Linked DNA regions of Homo sapiens. The protein of the gene in region 1 interacts with the protein of each later gene in a pairwise test. Each region holds a gene or a part of one and is shown in the gene's direction. Other genes may lie near its edges.

Region 1 (6,839 bases):
CTGCAAGGGAACGCAGATAAAAGCAGCCTGCGGAACGGTAAGCTAAGTAACTGAACCCAGACTCTACAAACCAGGCAAGAAAATAGGCCTTTGAGCGAAATAAAAAAGGGTGATTCTTCAGGAGAGACGAATTATAAAAGGCAACACTTGCCCACTTCCCCACCCCCAAATGGTAAAAGGTCCTTTTCCTGAGGGGCCAGGCCTGGGCAGTCCCATTTAAGTTGCAGAAGGGGTCAATTTGCAGGACGTACCTTTCATTCAGGGTAGCAAAGATGTTTAAAGTCGTTCTTCACTCAAAGCCTCCAGGGGTAAATCCCTTCTACACAGCAGATGGGAGAAAATTGGGCCTGGTGCCCTCAGTGTAACTCTCTCCTCTGATCCCACCACTCAAGGAAGAGGTCTCCGCCCCTTCCTTCCCGGTTATTACTGAACCACCTAGTTCACCTCTTCTTGATCTTAAGTCCCTTCCAAACTCAGAACAGGCCTTCCCAGACCTCATAAAGAATCCTCACCCCCTCGTTTTTCCTTACCAACAAGTGCTTCCAAGCACTGGAGCATCCATAACTACTTTACTGTGTATTCTCTGTCTTCTCCCTAGGATGTGAGTTCTAGGAGTGCAAGATGGATGACTTTTGGGTCACCTTTGTGTTTTCAGGCCCTAGCACAGCACATGGCACATAGAAGAATACGTATTTATTGGAAGCATTGAAAAATCAGTCAAACTTAAGAAGCAAGACAACCTCATTTGTAATTTTTTTAGAGACAGAGTCTCATTCTGTTACCCAGGCTGGAGTGCTGTGCAATGATCATAGCTCATTGTAGCGTTGACCTCCTGGGCTCAAGCCTCGGCCCCCAGAGTAGCTAGGACACAGGCCACCATGCCCGGTTCATTTTTAAATTTTTTCTAGAGATGGGGATCTTGCCGTGTTGCCCAGTCTGGTCTGGCACTCCTGGCCTCACGCAAACCTCCCACCTCAGCTTTCTACGAAGCTAGGACTACAGGTGCATGCCATGCCTGGCTAATTTTTAATTTTCTTTTTTAAGAAATGGGGATCTTGCTATGTTGCCCAGGCTGATCTGGAGCTCCTGGACTCAAGCAATCCTCCTGCCTCAGCCTCTCAAAGTGTTAGGATTACAGGTGTGAGCCACTGCGCCTGGCCGTAGAGAACCTCCTTTTTGACATAAAAGTAATCATGAACATGTGAGCAATATTTCATTTGGATGCCAATGTAGAGTTAAGCATCCCTAACCCCACCCGGTCTCGTCTCACTCAACATCTGCAGCTTGTCCACGCCTCTCCACAGCAGCAGAAATGAGCCAAAGCAGGAAAGGCTGACTCATTGTAGGTGCCAGAGGCTGGGAAAATCTATAGAGCCAGAGGGGAAGTAGACACGTTGGTTCTGGGGAAGGGTGGCCTGTCACTTTGGGGAAAGAAATGGAAGGTCAGAGGGACTTCTGGAAGGCAGAGGGGAGCAGGTGGGATGGTTTCCTATGCCTGGACCATCAGTTTCTGGGAGGGAAGAGGCAGGAAGTAGTGATGGATGCCCTGGACTGAAGACTGGGAGGGCCAGGAAGGAGCCTTAAAATTTGCACTTCCAGAGAGAAAGTCGGCTGGTGGGATTGACCTCGGACTGACAACTAACAGGCAGCATGCGGTGGAGTTTCAGGAAGCCAGAGGTCTGGGGTGCCAGCAGCAACAAACCCAGGCTGGCTGATGGAAGGGCCCAGCCTAGACAGGGAAGCAGAGGGGCTGCATGGAAAGGCTCAGGGCTGGAGGTGATGTGAAGTGGAATAAGCTTCAGTGGGAGCCAGGAGGTTGTATTTCCCGTTGGGGGCGGTGGTGGAGGGATGGGGGTGCCCAGAGAGGAACTATGGATTAGGCCCAGGCCGGCCACTCAGAGTGCTTGGCATCCAGGATGTGTTAAGATGGCATTGAGGCCGAGCGCGGTGGCTTAGGCCTGTAATCCCAGTACTTTGGGAGGCCAAGGCAGGCGGATCACCTTTGGTCAGGAGTTTGAGACAAGCCTGGCCAACATGGTGAAACCTCGTTTCTACTAAAAATACCAAAAACAATTAGCTGAGCATGGTGGCGCGCGTCTGTAATCCCAGCTTCTGGGGAGGCCGAGGCAGGAGAATTGCTTCAACCCGGGAGGCGGAGGTTGCAGTGAGCCGAGATCGCGCCACTGCACTCCAGCCTGGGCGACAGAGTGAGACACCATCTCAAAAAAAAAATAGCATTGAGATCAATAAGGAAGTCTAGAAACCAGGAAGCTTTTTGCAAAGAGAAAACGCCTTTTGTTATTCTCACCGATGGATATTAAGCTTTCCCTCACAGACAGGACTACAAGCTTCAGAGTGGATCTGAGATGAATGCGAATTGCTGTGTACCTTTGTAAGGGACAGAAGACCGGATTTTCAAATTTAAAACAACCATTCTGTTTCTGGAATCAGAAATCAGTTTCGAGATTTACAACTGTATTTTTTAAAAAATCTGTCTTCTTAGTGGACTCGGGGGGGACTTCACGTGGCACCCAGTACACGCCACGCCAAGCCACCGAAGCCAGAGGTGTGTGTCTGGGGCCAGAGACGTGCATTCCCTCAGCAAGGCCGGCCTCAGACGCAAACGCCAGCACCGCCACCCTGTCGCCCGCTGAGAGGATCTGGCCGCCGGGGGGAGGGGGCGGGGGGGGGGGCAGCGGGGGAACAACAAAAAAATCCCAGCATAATGATTATTCCCAGGGACCGTTGGGTTTTTTTTTCCCCAAGGCGGCCGAAAAAACAAGTGCTCCCCTTCCCCGGAAATGAGATGCACAGGGGTATTCATTCCATTCCGCGGCTGGGAAGCCCCTGCGGAAACGAGTCTGGCTGCATGTGCGGCCTCGGTCCCAGAAATCAAAAAGAGCGTCCCCTGAGCCCACAGCTTGCTCCTCCATGTGACCGGCCCCTGGGCTGGTGGCCACTGTGGACGCGCCCGGCGCCCCCTCTCCCGGCTCCCTGCGGGTTCCGCGGAGCCGCCGGCGCGCAGCCCGGCCAGGTGCACCCGGCACGGCCCCACTAACAGCGCGCGCCTCCAGCCGCCGGGCACTGGCGGCCACGCGGGCGAGATTTACGGTGGCGCTAGGCGGCGGCTTCCGAGGCCGGCCGGCGCCCAGGCTCCGATTACAGGTTCACACTGGGGGCCCGGCCGGCGGCCGCCCAGCCCCCGCCGGCGCGCCCTCGCGCGGCCCGGCTCCCCGCCTGCCCATTCTTCTCCATTCATGCGGACGCCCAGCGCCGCCGCCGCCGCCGCCAGCGCGGCCGCCGCCGTCGCCGTCGCCGGCCGCCCGGATTGGCTGGCGGCCGCGGCGCCGGCACTTTCCCACGGCCCGCGGCGCGTGCGGCTCACCGGAGGCGCTGCAGGCTCGGCCCTGGCGCGCGGCCAGGCCAATCGGGGCGCGCGGGGCGGGGAGGAGCCGCGGCCGCCGGCGGGCTTGTGTCCCGGCCCGGCCTCCCGCGCCTCCCCGCCGCCCGCGCCTCCTCCTTCCCCTGAGTGCAGGCTGGACAGAGCCCCCGCGGAGCCGACGCACCGCCGCCGGGCAGGGGCGGGCGCGGAGGGCGGGGGCGCGGTCCGCTAGAGCCCTCGGCCTCGCTCCCGCCCCTCCCCGGAGCGGCTGCCAATCAGCGGCGCGAGAAACCGGATTGGCCGGGGGGCGGCTGTTGCCCTGGAGTTGCCGCCCCGCCTCTCCGCCCCCTCGCCCGCCTTCCCCACTCCCCCGCCCTCCCCAGGGCCCTGGGAAGGGGCTCAGCGTGGGAAAGGATGGTTGAGTTTTAACCAGAGGCAAAGCGTGAGCGGGATCAGTGTGTGCGGAACGCAAGCAGCCGAGAGCGGAGAGGCGCCGCTGTAGTTAACTCCTCCCTGCCCGCCGCGCCGACCCTCCCCAGGAACCCCCAGGGAGCCAGCATGAAGCGAGCTCACCCCGAGTACAGCTCCTCGGACAGCGAGCTGGACGAGACCATCGAGGTGGAGAAGGAGAGTGCGGACGAGAATGGGTGAGCTGGCGGCGGCGGAGCGGAGCCGAGCCAGAGCGGGAGGCGAGCGCAGGCCTGCCGCGGTGACAGCGGGCTAGGACCCTTGGCGCGCCGGTGCCCTGCGCTGACCTCCGCGCGTCGCAGGCTGGCGGCAGCCTGCGGCCAGGGAACCCCTAGGTGCCTTCCAGCCCAAGTGGCAAAAAAAGTCTGAGTGCGGGGAGGGTGTGGGGGCGACCTCTCAGATCACCTCTCCTCGTTTAACGGCGATTTCAGTTTTTGTTTGTTCTTTTTCTCTTTTCAGAAACTTGAGTTCGGCTCTAGGTTCCATGTCCCCAACTACATCTTCCCAGATTTTGGCCAGAAAAAGACGGAGAGGAGTGAGTCTCTTTACACTCTCCTTTTATTTTTGTTATTGATTAACGGAAATAACCACCTTTTTTTTTGTCTTTGAAATTTACAGTCGTAATGGTAATGCCTTCCTTTGTTTTGCTTGCCTTCTGCAGATAATTGAGAAGCGCCGACGAGACCGGATCAATAACAGTTTGTCTGAGCTGAGAAGGCTGGTACCCAGTGCTTTTGAGAAGCAGGTAATGGAGCAAGTAGGTAAAGCTCTCAGCATAGCTATCTGCACCTTCTGAATCTTCCCCTCATTAATCTCATCCGCCTTGGAAAATAGCTGTGTTGCTTGTGCCTAGATGAATTCGTACACAGATACCAGCGTATTTTGTGAAGACAACTGATTTTGCTTTAGTCCATGCTTTACGATTTACAAAGCATGTATCTTTGTATATATGTTTGCATATTTTAAATTGTTCCCCAAAGGAACTTGTGCCAAATCAATCTTTTGCCATTCTCATCTTTAGGGATCTGCTAAGCTAGAAAAAGCCGAGATCCTGCAGATGACCGTGGATCACCTGAAAATGCTGCATACGGCAGGAGGGAAAGGTACATCTCCTAGACCTAGTGGGGGCTCTGAATGGTTGGCAAAGAGTGAGCAGCGGCTGAAGGCCAGGATTGGTGCAGTAGCTGCCTGATTTTTCTTTGGGGGTGGGGAGAGAACGGTGTGTGGTGTGTGCAGTTCCCTGTCAGTACATTTTCGAATGCACATAGAATCTTCTCCAGTGAATTCACCACCCCAGCTCTCTGCGGATTGAGCTAGTGCATCTTTTGGAAAAATACCTATTATTTGTGAGGTCTTCAAAAGTTGTGACAGCCCTGATTCAGATCAGGTAGCTTTCACATTTGTCCATTGCTATTTTGAGAAAAAGCATTTAAAAACAATATGTGGTCTTATTTTTGGTATACGGGATTTTAAAAAAAAGGTGCTGCCACATGCCTCTTGAGGAAAGAAATGTATTCTGGTTAAGTAAAGGAAACCTAACGGGAGACCAAGGTCTGTGTGTATGTCTCTCCAGCAGGAAAATGCTTTACTGAGGTCCAAGTGCCTAAAAGCTCCGCGATGATAACTTACATCTGTGTGTCTAATGAATTTCACTGCTCTGTGGTTTCTCTGCCCTTGATGTATTTTTTGTTGTTGTTGAGGGAAAACATTAAAGGAATGAACATAGTTTCATCTGCTGGTAGGGTATAATTCCAATTTCTGCTCTGCAGCTTCTAATTGGGCTTTGAACTTGCATTAGCAAACACATTCTGCTTATGTTGATTAATGCAAAGATTTTTGTTGATTCCAAAGACTTTCGGAAGAACCCCTGACTGTTGTGTTTTAAGGGATGCAGGTATCTGCCAGGAAGGGCTGTCTCTGGGACTTAAGAAATGAGGGAAACGGGCAAAGCCCTGAGATTTTTCTTTTGTTCTTTTGCTTAGGTTACTTTGACGCGCACGCCCTTGCTATGGACTATCGGAGTTTGGGATTTCGGGAATGCCTGGCAGAAGTTGCGCGTTATCTGAGCATCATTGAAGGACTAGATGCCTCTGACCCGCTTCGAGTTCGACTGGTTTCGCATCTCAACAACTACGCTTCCCAGCGGGAAGCCGCGAGCGGCGCCCACGCGGGCCTCGGACACATTCCCTGGGGGACCGTCTTCGGACATCACCCGCACATCGCGCACCCGCTGTTGCTGCCCCAGAACGGCCACGGGAACGCGGGCACCACGGCCTCACCCACGGAACCGCACCACCAGGGCAGGCTGGGCTCGGCACATCCGGAGGCGCCTGCTTTGCGAGCGCCCCCTAGCGGCAGCCTCGGACCGGTGCTCCCTGTGGTCACCTCCGCCTCCAAACTGTCGCCGCCTCTGCTCTCCTCAGTGGCCTCCCTGTCGGCCTTCCCCTTCTCTTTCGGCTCCTTCCACTTACTGTCTCCCAATGCACTGAGCCCTTCAGCACCCACGCAGGCTGCAAACCTTGGCAAGCCCTATAGACCTTGGGGGACGGAGATCGGAGCTTTTTAAAGAACTGATGTAGAATGAGGGAGGGGAAAGTTTAAAATCCCAGCTGGGCTGGACTGTTGCCAACATCACCTTAAAGTCGTCAGTAAAAGTAAAAAGGAAAAAGGTACACTTTCAGATAATTTTTTTTTTAAAGACTAAAGGTTTGTTGGTTTACTTTTATCTTTTTTAATGTTTTTTTCATCATGTCATGTATTAGCAGTTTTTAAAAACTAGTTGTTAAATTTTGTTCAAGACATTAAATTGAAATAGTGAGTATAAGCCAACACTTTGTGATAGGTTTGTACTGTGCCTAATTTACTTTGTAAACCAGAATGATTCCGTTTTTGCCTCAAAATTTGGGGAATCTTAACATTTAGTATTTTTGGTCTGTTTTTCTCCTTGTATAGTTATGGTCTGTTTTTAGAATTAATTTTCCAAACCACT
Region 2 (7,026 bases), on another chromosome or scaffold:
GCTGGCTTCCCTGTGGGGGGGACTGTCCCCTTGCCTGCCGTCCTTGAAGGCACCTGCGGCCAGTGACTCGAGGAGCAAGTCCTGTGCACAGACCGCCCCCCTGATTCGCTCACCCCCCCAGTCTGGGCCTGTTGGCCAGGGCAGCACCCGAGGGAAAGGCTGCAGCAAAGGAGCCAGCATCATGGAAACTGTTTTGAGGGAGAATAAGCTCAGATTAATCTCATGTTTGTGGAACACTGATAGCATCCCACTTGTCTTCTTATACCCCCAGAATCTCAAATTTATATTACGGGGAAACAGCAGTTAGTGCATTTTAAAAGATGATTCTGGGGCCAGGCGCTGTGGCTCATGCCTGTAATTCCAGCACTTTGGGAGGCCGAGGCGGGTGGATCACCTGAGGTTGGGAGTTCGAGACCAGCCTGGCAAAGATGATGAAATCCTGTCTCTACTAAAAATACAAAAATTAACCGGGTGTGGTGGTGGGTGTCTGTAATCCCAGCTACTTGGGAGGCTGAGGCATGAGAATCGCTTGAACCTGGGAGGCGGAGGTTGCAGTGAGCTGAGATCGTGCCACTGCACTGCAGCCTGGGCGACAAAGTGAGACTTCGTCCCAAAAAAAAAAGGGGGGGGTTCTGGAATTGTCTGCTCACAAGTGGAGAAGTCAACAGGAAGAAAATTAGAAAATAAATTGGATTTCTGAAGCCCTCAGTATTCTAGGATGGGAGCAGGAGGCAGGAAGTGGTGGCCGGGTCATTGGTTCATTAGTCCACCAGTGTTGGCTGGTGTTGGGGCACTGCCCCCAGGGAGAGCTGCTTGTGGTCACCCCTCCAGTGAAGCAGGCCTGTTTCATTGTCTGGGATCCCACAGTCTCCCTCATTGCCTCAGCTACTTTCCCACCTGGTGTCCCCGACTGGGTGCTGTTATCCTTCATAGTGTAGCCTTTGATGCCAACATGAAAGGTCAATGTGGCAGGGATGAGGTTGTGAGATGAGGTCTGGAGCATATTCTCTTTATGTAGAACCTTCTGGTTACTTGGGGGACTGGGGGGCGGGGAGCGGGAAAACTAAAAATCCAAAAACGGGCGTCACAGACTGGAGAGCCCCGTGTTTTACTTCCGGCTCTGTTTTCTGTAATAGCATCTTGGCACTCTCAGACGATGCGTCTAGGTGGGAGCCTTCTTACCTCACACTGGACCCCGTCTCACCGGCCTGTGTACAGGTGTGTGTGCGCACACACATACAGACACACCTCACACGAAAGTCATTTTAAGGCAGTGTTGGAGGGACCCAATCATGACCAGACCCTTAGTTGAGTCTCTCCAAGGAGATGCCGTCCCAGAACTGCTGACCCTCAGTCTAAATTTGTGCCCTGGGCAGCTCTTCAGAGACCCCTACGATGGGGCACTCAGGCACTCACCTTCTCTAGCAGACCTTTTTGCCTCATGGTTCCGTCACTTTAAAACCACTCTCTGAGGTTCCAGTCACTACACAGACATGTTTTCATAAGGAAGCCCAGGTGAGTTGGCATCCAGAGTGAGGGCTGCTCTGCACCCGGAGCACAGAGTCCACACTTCGGATGCTTTCTCTTGGCTGAGGAGCTGGAGCCAGCCAGGGCCCTCTGTGCAGGGGCCTACTGCAAGAGCCCAACGCTGTGCCCAGGAAATCATGGGAATGTGAACCCCCTTGGACTTAGAGGCAGGGGCCATCTGCTAGGAAGGGTGTGTGGAAGGAGCCTCTGAAGCACCCTTGAAGGATTCTGGGAGAGCTTTGGTCCAGGTATGGGAGAGTGTCCCAGGAGGAATGTCAAGGCCCAGAGGTGGGCGCCCAGGGCCTGCTGAGTAATCAGCGAGCTTGGGGTCTGTTCTCTGGAGCAAACTGCCTCACGGCCCTGCACATCCTGGTTTGCCAATGGAAATATCTCTGCCTTACAAAGCTGTTTCAGTTCCCATGATGCCGTCCGTGTCTGTCATAAGCGTTGTCGTCAGCAGGCAGGGGTTTACTCCTCTACCTCTGGATTCCTTTGCAGGTAAGAGTAGAGGGGGCTGCTACCTTGCCAGTTCTAGAGAGGCATAGCTTCGTCATTTAGCCTGAATTCAGAGCCTTGCCAATGATGCTTCGTATTTTGAGACGGCACCCTGGTTTGTGTTCGTTATTAATTTCTCTGTCTTGATTTGGTTCTCACATTGGCGACTACAGCTTTCTTTCTGGAAGGAGTAGCCCCATGCTGTGCAGGTTTTGTTTTTGCTCCACCTGTGCTTAAGCAAGAGGCGGTTGGCATTCTCAGCATCTCGTGTTGTAGAAGTGGTGTAACTTGTCACGTTTGCTTTTGCAGAGTAACAGTTACCCCTCAATGAGCGACCCCTACCTGTCCAGCTATTACCCGCCGTCCATTGGATTTCCTTACTCCCTCAATGAGGCTCCGTGGTCTACTGCAGGGGACCCTCCGATTCCATACCTCACCACCTACGGACAGCTCAGTAACGGAGACCATCATTTTATGCACGATGCTGTTTTTGGGCAGCCTGGGGGCCTGGGGAACAACATCTATCAGCACAGGTTCAATTTTTTCCCTGAAAACCCTGCGTTCTCAGCATGGGGGACAAGTGGGTCTCAAGGTCAGCAGACCCAGAGCTCCGCGTATGGGAGCAGCTACACCTACCCCCCGAGCTCCCTGGGTGGCACGGTGGTTGATGGGCAGCCAGGCTTTCACAGCGACACCCTCAGCAAGGCCCCCGGGATGAACAGCCTGGAGCAGGGCATGGTTGGCCTGAAGATTGGGGACGTCAGCTCCTCCGCCGTCAAGACGGTGGGCTCTGTCGTCAGCAGCGTGGCACTGACTGGTGTCCTTTCTGGCAACGGTGGGACAAATGTGAACATGCCAGTTTCAAAGCCGACCTCGTGGGCTGCCATTGCCAGCAAGCCTGCAAAACCACAGCCTAAAATGAAAACAAAGAGCGGGCCTGTCATGGGGGGTGGGCTGCCCCCTCCACCCATAAAGCATAACATGGACATTGGCACCTGGGATAACAAGGGGCCTGTGCCGAAGGCCCCAGTCCCCCAGCAGGCACCCTCTCCACAGGCTGCCCCACAGCCCCAGCAGGTGGCTCAGCCTCTCCCAGCACAGCCCCCAGCTTTGGCTCAACCGCAGTATCAGAGCCCTCAGCAGCCACCCCAGACCCGCTGGGTTGCCCCACGCAACAGAAACGCGGCGTTTGGGCAGAGCGGAGGGGCTGGCAGCGATAGCAACTCTCCTGGAAACGTCCAGCCTAATTCTGCCCCCAGCGTCGAATCCCACCCCGTCCTTGAAAAACTGAAGGCTGCTCACAGCTACAACCCGAAAGAGTTTGAGTGGAATCTGAAAAGCGGGCGTGTGTTCATCATCAAGAGCTACTCTGAGGACGACATCCACCGCTCCATTAAGTACTCCATCTGGTGTAGCACAGAGCACGGCAACAAGCGCCTGGACAGCGCCTTCCGCTGCATGAGCAGCAAGGGGCCCGTCTACCTGCTCTTCAGCGTCAATGGGAGTGGGCATTTTTGTGGGGTGGCCGAGATGAAGTCCCCCGTGGACTACGGCACCAGTGCCGGGGTCTGGTCTCAGGACAAGTGGAAGGGGAAGTTTGATGTCCAGTGGATTTTTGTTAAGGATGTACCCAATAACCAGCTCCGGCACATCAGGCTGGAGAATAACGACAACAAACCGGTCACAAACTCCCGGGACACCCAGGAGGTGCCCTTAGAAAAAGCCAAGCAAGTGCTGAAAATTATCAGTTCCTACAAGCACACAACCTCCATCTTCGACGACTTTGCTCACTACGAGAAGCGCCAGGAGGAGGAGGAGGTGGTGCGCAAGGTGAGGCTGGGTGTTGCAGGCAACTGCCATGCAGATGTGTCCTTGGTGCCGTACTTAGACCAGGTGGCCCGGTGGTGAGCAGATGCGGCAGGTCCGCCGAGCTGAGTCTCGTGACAGGCAGCTCCCAGTTGGCCGCAGGTGGGCGGGCCCAGGTCCTGGCAGCCTCGTGGGCTTTCCCTGCGGAGAGTACTGCTAGTAACCAGTGATGGTATTTGGGTAGATGTCACCGAACGACTTTGATCACTTTCCAATTATAATTGAATAATTGGGACCACAGTGTACACATTCTGTTTTTCTGTTACAAAGAATTTGAGGGTAACTTTCTCCTCTCCTTTTTGAATTGTGATACTTTCTGGAACAGTGCTTCCCAGCCTCCGTCCATGAGGAACACTTAGGTGATATTCACGAAGCACTGCGGTGGGCACGTAGGGCATCGAGACCCCACCTGGCCAAGGGCCCTTGCTTCCCAGGGCACTGTCCCTCAGTAGTTGGGAATCTCTGGTCTTTGATCTGGAGGTCGTTGCTTTATTTTTCTTTTAAAAACCCAGTATCCTGCAGTTTTTGGAAACAAACTCACTCCATCTAGGTCGTAAAGAAAATGGTGGTGGTGGGGTAGGTTTGGAATCCAGACATTTTATAATGACAAATATGGATCCTATATCAAAAATTCATTGACTGGGCCTTTTTGAGACAGTCCTGATTTCCTGGGATACTTGTAGCCAAACTCCTGAGTCTGTGCTGTCATGTGATGTCTGACGGGATTGAGTGTGTTTGCTCTTCAGAAGGGCTCAGATGCCCGTAAACTGGCACCAGCAATGGGAAAATGATGATGCTGACATACTTCATAATGCTTCCTTTATTCGAGAGAGTTCATCCTGAGATTCTCTCCTGCTTTTTAAAAAATATCCCTTCCTGAAATGTCAGTTGATAATAGATGGGTTTTCAGTGTTTTTTTCAGTTCTCTATGTTAAAGGAATTATTCACCTGTGAGCACCAAGTGTCCTAATGTATTTTGGGCAGAAAGGCGTGTACATGGCATATATAGGGATGTATAGAGTAGAGCCGCCTGCACTGTCTGCAGTCTTACATTATGCAAGTCCTGAACAACTTGGGGCTTGTAGAACTTTGGAAAAGTATCAGTCCCTCTCTTTTGTGAGAAAAGAAGTGGATGTCATTTATTTCCAGTTACTGAATTCTGAATTAGTTACTGAAATTCTGTGTTTTAGGTCTTTTTTTTTTTTTTAAATGGAGTTTTGCTCTGTTGCCCAGGCTGGAGTGCAGTGGCGCAATCTCGGCTCACTGCAACCTCCACCTCCTGGGTTCGAGTGATTGTCCTGCCTTAGCCTTCCAGGTAGCTGGGATTACAGACAATAGCTCGGATTACAGACTTTTAGGTATAAAATGAATACTGAATTGCTAAAGTTGCAGGGATAATTGCTAATGAAGCTTTAGGTCCTTAGCTGGCTAAACTGGAAGCTGGCTGTGTGTGTGTGCGCGCACAGTTTTTCTTCTTAAATACCGTAATACTTGGGTTTTCATAAAGTGTGCGGACTCCTGACCTGGTTGGTGTTTTTAAAACTCTAGTGTCCTACAACTTGCATTATAAAAACTTGATCTAGATAACTGCTTTTGTGTGTCGGGTTATGGGTTAAGCATCTTGGTAAGCGGCCTGCAGGGTCTGTGGGCATCTGCCTGCAGGCAAGATCCAAGTGTTCCTCAAACCACTGGGTGCTCCAAGGCGAGTCCAACAGAGCCGCTGGTGGAGCATCATTGGAAGGAACTTGGTAACCCTCCCCTAAACTGTTAGCCAAGCTGGAGAACTCTGGGCCCATATGGGTCAGTGTTAACATTAATTCATTTTATTGAAAGTGACAAATGAGAACCTGGTTTGTTAATGTTTGGTGGAATTTCAAATAGCTTTTTTTTTTTTGAGCCAATCTCACCGTCAGCCAGGCTGGAGTGCAGTAGTGCAATTTTGGCTCACTGCAACCTCAACCTCCGAGGTTCAGGCCATTTTCCTGCCTCAGCCTCCCAAGTAGCTGGGATCATAGGCGCCCACCACTGCACCCAGCTAAATTTTGTATTTTTAGTAGAGATAGGGTTTCACCATGTTGGCCAGGCTGGTCTCGATCTCTTGACCTCAAGTGATCTGCCCACCTCAGCCTCCCAAAGTGCTGGGATTACAGGTGTGAGCCACCGTGCCCCGCCTCAAATAGCTTTTTGTTTTTGTTTTTGAGACAGGTCTTTCTCCGTCTGCCGGGCTGGAGTGCAGTGACTTAATCACAGCTTGTTGTAGCCTTGACCTCCTGGGCTCAAGCGGTCTTCCTGCCTCAGCCTCCTGAGTAGCTACAGGCGTGCACCACCACGCCTGGCTAATTTTTGTATTTTTTTGTAGAATCAGTGTCTTGCTATGTTGCCCAGGCTGGTCTTGAACTCCTGGGCTCAAACAGTCTTCCCACCTTGGCTTCACAAAGTGCTGGGATTATAGGAATGAGCCACTGTGCCCGGCGTCAAATATCTTTTAAGCTTATTGGGCAGTGTAGAGAAATGGAAGTGGTCCTTGAGGAGGTCCCCAGACTGGACTTCGCTGCTGGCTCTCCCTGCCTGCGAAGGTGCTCTAGGCCTTGTGCTTAACGGGCTGGGCTAGTGGCTCATCCAGGATTGGAGTCTTAGGTGTCTTGAGGCTGAGACTCTGGGTGTCTAATGCTTTCTCCCTCTGGGTTTCCCATGAAGAGTCAGTGCAGTTTTGTTTTGTTTTTTTTTTTTTTAAGACAGAATCTTGCACTGTTGCCCAGTCTGGAGTGTAGTGGTGTGATCTCGGCTCACTGCAAGCTCTGCCTCCTGGGTTCACACAATTCTCCTGCCTCAGCCTCCCGGGTAGCTGGGACTACAGGCCCTTGCCACCACGCCCAGCGAATTTTTTGTGCTTTTAGTAGAGATGGGGTTTCACCGTGTTAGCCAGGATGGTCTCGATCTCCTGACCTCGTGATCCGCCCGCTTTGGCCTCCCAAAGTGCTGGGATTACAGGCGTGAGCCACTGCGCCCGGCCGAGTCAGTGCAGTTTTAAGAACAAAGTAGTGTGCCGAGGAGAGGGTTGTGCGCCTGTGCTGGTAGAGCCCCCGGGCGGTTTTCTCAAGGTTCTCTCAGGACTTCGAAGAACAGACCCACCTTTTC
Region 3 (7,026 bases), on another chromosome or scaffold:
TATGATTCTAGTCAAAAACTGAGCTGTATCACATACCATTGATTGTTCAGAGACTTGAGTTTATCTATGAGGGTTACTTTCAGAAATTTAGCTAAAGTCAAGTCTACCAGTAAGAATTGATGGCATACCTGAGATGGTTTATCAAAACTATTGTTTACGAATTGTTTGTGTTCCTGTTAAATAGATTTTATGTATATATTCTTAATTCTCACAACAGCTGTATGAGAGGTAAGTGGTATTATTTCCAGTTGAAGAAATTGAGATTCAGTGAGGTTAGGTACTTGTCTAAGTGTGAACTGTGGGTGACAAACCTACATTCAAAGTCAGGACTGTGTGATTTCAACACTGACATTATATGCACCCAGAGACCGGTCTTCAGCCTGTGTGTCTGTGACTAGTTCCATGTTCCCAACCTGGAGCTGAACTGTATGTCCCCTTGTCTGTTAGTCCTGTAGTCTTAGAATAGACAAAGGTGTCGTAATGTTAGCTTCACAAAGAAAGTCCTGGCTTGTTGAAGTCTAGCCCAAGTTTCCTAGTCTTGGGTTTTGCGGTCTCAACGTCCCCATGGTCAGGGGACATGGGGACCCTTGCTCAGACCTTGAGGGTGTGCCCTCCTTTGGCCCTTTGGATGTCCTTTGCCACACCCTTGTTTGAGGGCAAGCTTTCCCTTTTCCACCACAACTTGAAGTAAGTGCTCTGTCAACATAGTGATCAGTGACTCTTTTGACAATTTTGTCCTCCCCATCACGCCTAGCATGGTGATGTACACAAAATAGATGTACTTTAAATAAGTCACATAGACTTTTCCAGTGTTCTGGTCCATGGGTGTTTCAGAAGTGTGTATTCAGACGATTTACTCTGTATATAACCCCATCCCCATATGTATGGGTTAATTTTCCTTCTTTCCTGAAAGTAGAAGTATCAATGCCAGTAAAACGAGGTGAGATACATTATATTCACGGGGTTGTAGAGCAGCAGAGATACACATGTGATGTGGTCACAGGTAGGCAAAGCCAGCCTTGGGACTTATTTTCCTGCCATTGCCACATGTACTGTTGGGACCCAGTCCTGGCCTCTGGAGGACAGCCTGACTTGGGAGTCTGCAGCCAGGGCTTTGATGGCAGGTGAGATACTTGGGCAGAACTCCCTGACCCAGTGGTTCCACCTGTCTCTGTGTTTCTGTGGCTCTATTTAGTAGGGCTTTTTGTTTGTTTGAGACAGAGTCTTGCTTTGTCGCCCAGGCTGGAGTGCAATGGCATGATCTCAACTTACTGCAACCTCTGCCTCCTGGCTTCAAGCAATTTTCCTGCTTCAGCCTCCTGAGTAGCTGGGATTACAGGTGTGCGCCACCATGCCAGGCTAATTTTTATATCTTTAGTAGAGATGGGATTTCACCATGTTGGCCTTGCTGGTCTTGAACTTCTGACCTCCTGGTCCACCCCCCCCACCCCCCCCCCCGCCCCCCGCCCTCGGCCTCCCAAAGTGCTAGGATTACAGGCATGAGCCACTGTGCCTGGCTTTTTTTTTTTTTTCTTTTTAAGACAGGGTCTTGCTCTGTTGCCTAGGCTGGAGTGCAGTGGCGTGATAACTGCTCACTACAGCCTTGATCTTCCAGGTTCAGGTGGTCCTCCTGACTCAGACTCCCAAGTAGCTGGGACTGCTGGCTTGTGTTAGCATGTCTGGCTATTTTTCTCTTTGTAGAGACGGGATCTTGCTTTGTAGTCCAGGCTGGTCTCAAACTCCTGGGCTCAGGTGATCCTTCCACTTCAGCCTCCCAAAGTGCTGGAATTACAGATATGAGCCATTGCGCCCAGCCTATTTGGTAGTTTCTGCACAGCTCAGGTAGTCAAGTGGATGCTTGGGTATCACTTAGTGGTCAGTTAGGCAAGTGCAGTGGACACCCCTCCTGGTGAGGAGAGTGCCTGATACTACTGGCAGGAAAGCCGAATGGCGCATATCTGGTTGACACCAGTTGCAGGCACGGCAACATAAAGGGAAGTACACGAAATGGGATTGTGTGTGTTGGCCAAGAATGGGATGAGATGTACAGGAACAGAAGGTGTAGTGGGCAGTGAATGGATGTGAGGAAGGTAAAGAGATGACCGGAGCTACAACTGGCCTTTAAGTCCACTGCAGGGGTTTTCCCTTCATGCAGTCAAGGAAATTACTGTTTTATATACCAAGTTAAAGGAAATTACTGTTTTATATACCACGTTAAATACCTGGTCCAAGATCACAAATGAAAGGTTGAATTTGCTCAAGCTGACAGAAGTACGTGAGGTAGTAGGATGTGCACAGCATGGGAGGCCAGGCAGGGCCTGGTCTATATCCTGCTGTGCTCATTTATCCAGTGTATGCATCAGGAAGGGGGGAGCCTTCCACACTGTGGGCTTCTGTGGGAAATGGTAGGAAAGAGTATCTGTGAAAACTCTTAAGGACAAAGAAAAAAAACGTGTTTTTTCTTTTTTTTTTTTGGAGACGGAGTGTTGCTCTGTCCCCCAGGTTGGAGGGCAGTGGTGCGATCTTGGCTCACTGCAACCTCCACCTCCTGCGTTCAAGCGATTCTCCTGCCTCAGCCTCCCTAGTAGCTGGGATTACAGGTACGAGCCACCACGCCCAGCTAATTTTTTGTATTTTTAGAGATGGGATTTCACCATCGTGGCCAGGCTGGTCTCGAACTCCTGGCCTCAAGTGATCCATCTGCCTCGGCCTCCCAAAGTGCTGGGATTACACGCGTGAACCACCGTGCCTGGCCAAAATGTGTTTTTTCAAAAGAGAAAGATATTATTTTTATTTGCGTATAGAGACTTCACAGTCCAGCATTTTCTGATCAATCTGGCAATTTAGACAATATTTGGAAATTTAGAAAGTTGAAAAGTTTGAGAGGTTTAAAGTTTAGTACTGTATGAGGAATTAAATGTTAGATATGTTTCATTTGCTGAAAAGCAAGCTTTTTAATAGAAACCCTAACCGGAAAGTGTTGGAACTTCTAAGTTGGTTGGCAGCATTCTCTGTTGACAGTGTGTGCTGCATGCAGCCTGTTAAAGCACCAGTTGGCGGGCCCTGTGCTCTGCTTTCCCTTTCATTGTGAGGGACTGCTTTGGGTAATTCTATACAGGTGTAATTAAGGGGCCAGGGGAAGAGTTCTTTTTGTTTCTGCTGTGAATTAGAGGACTATGTCCTTGCTCTTTTGGCGCAAAGCCAACCTTTCAGATTTCTAAATTTTGAAGGCTGAGCATGGTGGCATGTGCCTGTAGTCGCAGCTAAACGGGAGGCTGAAATGGGAGGATTGCTTGAGCCCAGGAGTTCAAGGCTGCAGTGACCTATGATCATGTTTGTGAATAGCCACTGCATTCCAACTTGGGCGAAATAGTAAGACTGTCTCTAAAAAAAAAAAAACAACCGTACTATTTTTTTTTTCCAGGTACTATTTTGAAGCGCTGGAAGAAGAACTGGTTTGATCTGTGGTCGGATGGTCACCTGATCTATTATGATGACCAGACTCGGCAGAATATCGAGGATAAGGTCCACATGCCAATGGACTGCATCAACATCCGCACGGGGCAGGAATGTCGGGGTAAGCTGGCCTGTCTTGGCCAACTTCTGTCTTCTGCTCTTCCTCTGTCTTGCTGGGAGCTTGGTCCTCTTCCTTCCCTGTTCTGCTTTCATTAACAGATTGAAGAAGGGCTCCATCTCAGAGGGGCGACCACAGTGGGGCCCCAGGCACTTAGATTATGAACCACATGGTCGGGAAATATCAGTGTTCTCAGTCCACGTCCCTCGTTCTCGTGGAGAGGGAGCCAGAGCTCTGGGAACCTCAGGAAGCACAGGCCACCCTAGACTACGTTGATTTTGTACTCAGAAACTGGCTTCTGTTTGATGGTGACTCCAGTCAATTGCTTAAAATCTGGGATGTTGGCCAGGCATGGTGGCTCATGCCTGTAATCCCAGCACTTTGGGAGGCCGAGGTGGGTGGATCACGAGGGCAGGAGTTCAAGACCACCCTGGCCAAGATGGTGAAACCCCAACTCTACTAAAAATACAAAAAAATTAGCCAGGTGTGGTGGCAGGTGCCTGTAATCTGGCTACTCAGGAGGCTGAGGTAGAGAATTGCTTGAACCCGGGAGTCAGAGGTTGCAGTGAGCCGAATATATTTTGTGGACGTCATCTTGGCAGCTGGTCTTGTCAGTCAGCCTAGCTATGTTCTTTCTGCATTCTTGGAAAGGCAGAGGGTTCTTTCATAGATGTAGCACTTGATTTATTGTCTAGTCCTTTGCTTCTCTGAGCTGGTAGTTCTTAGAAAATGTAAGAAGAAATCCTGAAAAAAGTTCCTTTATTCTGCTTATTTTTCATAGATACTCAGCCCCCGGATGGAAAGTCAAAAGACTGCATGCTCCAGATTGTTTGTCGAGATGGGAAAACAATTAGTCTTTGTGCAGAAAGCACAGATGATTGCTTGTAAGTTTTGCTTTCTTATGTGTTTAATTTAAAAAGTATTTTCTATTTTAACTTCTGATTACCAAAAAATGAAAAGAAAGGGCGTGGAGTTTTCTTTCAGGCATCAGAATAAGGGACTCAGTGGATGTATGAGAGAAATGCAAGAGTCGCTTTTCCAATTCTAGTTTCTGCCTCTCTCAGACTGCCTAGGCCGATCCCATTGTGGTGAAAATGGCAGAAAGGAATAGCAGTCTCATCATGCTGTCTTTCATTATTAGATTCACAGTGGGTAACGGGCATAGTTGAAATAAAATGACCAGAAAAGCAAGAAAGTAAAGAGTAAGGAAACTGTCAGTTCCTAGGGCTGCTGTCACAAATTGCTGAACACTGAGTGACGGAAATGGCAGAAATTCATTGTCTCATAGTTCTGGAGGCTGGAAGTCTGGAATCAGTGTGTCAGCAGATCCTTGCTCCCTCTGAGATGCTGGGTAGGATCCTTTCTTGCCTCTTCCTAGCTTCTGGTGGTTGCTGGTAGTCCTTGGTGTTCTTTGGCTGACAGCCACATCACTCCGGTCTCTGCCTCTGTTGTCACATGGCCTTCTTCGGCTGTGTCTGTGTCCAGAATTCTCTTTTCTTATAAAGGACACCAATCATAATGGATTAAGGACCCACCTTAATTCACTATGACCTTATCTTAATTTGATTCCATATGCAAATATCCTATTTCCACATAAGGTCCCATTTGAGGGTACTGGGGATTAGGATTTATACATATCTTTTTCATGAGGACACAATTGAACCCATAATAGAGACTTTTGAGAAAGATGGTGAAATGGATTAGAGATCATCTTCCCTGAGGGGAAAACATTTCAATGGTGCAACCAAATAAAGAAGTTTGATCTCAAGCACAAACTACAAACAGTTAAAGAAAGAAATAGATGATTCTACTGAGATGTTCTTCAATCCTACCCGAATCCCAGAAGCAGTGACAAGATGAGTTAATTAAATCTTGCAAATTTTCAGTATTACCCTGTAATCTGGAGTGATGCTGATTAAGTGTAAGTTACTTTTTGGAAAAGCTAGGGAAAAAATCCTTAAGAATGTGATGTCCTTGGGGCCTCAGCAGAGGCTGGACGGTTCTCCCAGGACTCATCATTGCAGGGCAGTGAAAGGCACTGAAGCTCACAGGAGTTGGGTAATTTTCTGTCTGGTGAAGTGAGCCCTAGCATGGGACATTCAAAGGAATATGCTCAGAAGAGAGTGTAGGACCCAGAGTTTTCAGAAAAGACTTACTCGGTCTCAGAAGAAATGTCCTTCTCTTCTAGCCCTGTGCCCTCAGATTACAGAATGTTGATTGTGAGGGTAACACCTAGCCATCAAACTGTTGCTGGGCTGGACTGAGGTAGAACAGGGTGGAACTACCAGTTGATACCAGATTAGGTAGGAAGCGTGTCAAGGAGAAATAACTCATACTTTATGAGAGCAAACAGCAGTTTTAGATATCACTTCCCATGTTAAACGTGAGCAGGATGTAAAGAAGTGGCTTGGCAACTATGCAGATATACCATGAAGGAAAAATAAGAAAAGGAAAATGCAAGCCTCAGGAAAAGCTCCTAGAGTGGAGGAAAATAAAACCCAAGAAACAGGAGCAGAGTCTTCAGGAATGCTTTCCTGGCCACCATATTTAAAATTGTATCTCCCTGTCCCCATACACACTCACCATCTATCAACTATTTATCTTGTTCATCATCTGCTTTCATTAGAATATATGCTGTGTGAGGGCAGAGATTTATGTTTCTTTTCTGCTCTTTTGTGTCTGTAACTTAGAAGGTCTGTTGCTGTCAAGAGGGTGCCATTCACGTTATAATCTGAAGAAAGTGGTCTTCCCTTCAATACAACCCCAAATGAAAAGTGAATCATTGGCATGGAAGAAAAGACTGGAGATACTCTCAGTGACAGGAAAAAGATGAAAAGATCAGAGATATGTTAGACTAAAAAAAGTTCAGAAAGATTATTGATGTCCATAAAGTGTACAACCCAAAAGAGAGAATTACAAATCTAAGGCAAGAAAAATGTTCTGAAATAATCGAACTGAATTGGCAGACCAAAGTCCCTACTAGACTCTTCCACCTGATATGACAACAAAATCTATATAAGATATATGAATAATCCAGTATGATACCCTTTAGCAAAGTGAATGACAATGGTATGCCACATACAAAATCAGTTGGGGAATTTTGCAACTTAACTGCATTCCTTAGAAAGCTAGAACACTTGGGCTGGGTGTGGTGGCTCAAGCTTGTAATCCCAGCACTTTGGGAGGTCAAGGCGGATGGATCACCTGAGGTCAGGAGTTCGAGACCAGCCTGGCCAACATGGTGAAACCTCGTCTCTACTAAAAATACAAAAATTAGCCAGGCGTGGTGGCAGGCACCTGTAATCCCAGCTACTTGGGAGGCTGAGGCAGGAGAATGGCGTGAACCTGGGAGGTGGAGGTTGCGGTGAGCCAAGATCACACCACTGTACTCCAGCCTGGACAACAGAGTGAGACTCCATCTCAAAAAAAAAAAAAAAAAAAAAAAAAAAAGA

Evidence for each region. The genes of interacting proteins can lie anywhere in the genome.
Region 2: the proteins of HEY1 (region 1) and YTHDF1 interact in binary tests that used the Homo sapiens proteins (3 or more experiments, as listed by UniProt).
Region 3: the proteins of HEY1 (region 1) and PLEKHB2 interact in binary tests that used the Homo sapiens proteins (3 or more experiments, as listed by UniProt).

Annotation. Positions count from the first base shown.
Region 1 is NC_000008.11:79,764,765-79,771,603, reverse strand, and holds the start of HEY1 (hairy/enhancer-of-split related with YRPW motif protein 1), read left to right. Parts: upstream 1-3,836; 5' UTR 3,837-3,940; coding exon 3,941-4,029; intron 4,030-4,309; coding exon 4,310-4,385; intron 4,386-4,511; coding exon 4,512-4,595; coding exon of another isoform or gene 4,596-4,607; intron 4,608-4,871; coding exon 4,872-4,953; intron 4,954-5,128; exon of another isoform or gene 5,129-5,340; coding exon of another isoform or gene 5,341-5,401; intron 5,402-5,832; coding exon 5,833-6,416; 3' UTR 6,417-6,839. UniProt on the Homo sapiens protein: Transcriptional repressor which binds preferentially to the canonical E box sequence 5'-CACGTG-3'. Downstream effector of Notch signaling required for cardiovascular development.
Region 2 is NC_000020.11:63,199,113-63,206,138, reverse strand, and holds part of YTHDF1 (YTH domain-containing family protein 1), read left to right. Parts: intron 1-2,331; coding exon 2,332-3,852; intron 3,853-7,026.
Region 3 is NC_000002.12:131,122,329-131,129,354, forward strand, and holds part of PLEKHB2 (pleckstrin homology domain-containing family B member 2), read left to right. Parts: intron 1-1,241; exon of another isoform or gene 1,242-1,339; intron 1,340-3,424; coding exon 3,425-3,577; intron 3,578-4,355; coding exon 4,356-4,458; intron 4,459-7,026. UniProt on the Homo sapiens protein: Involved in retrograde transport of recycling endosomes.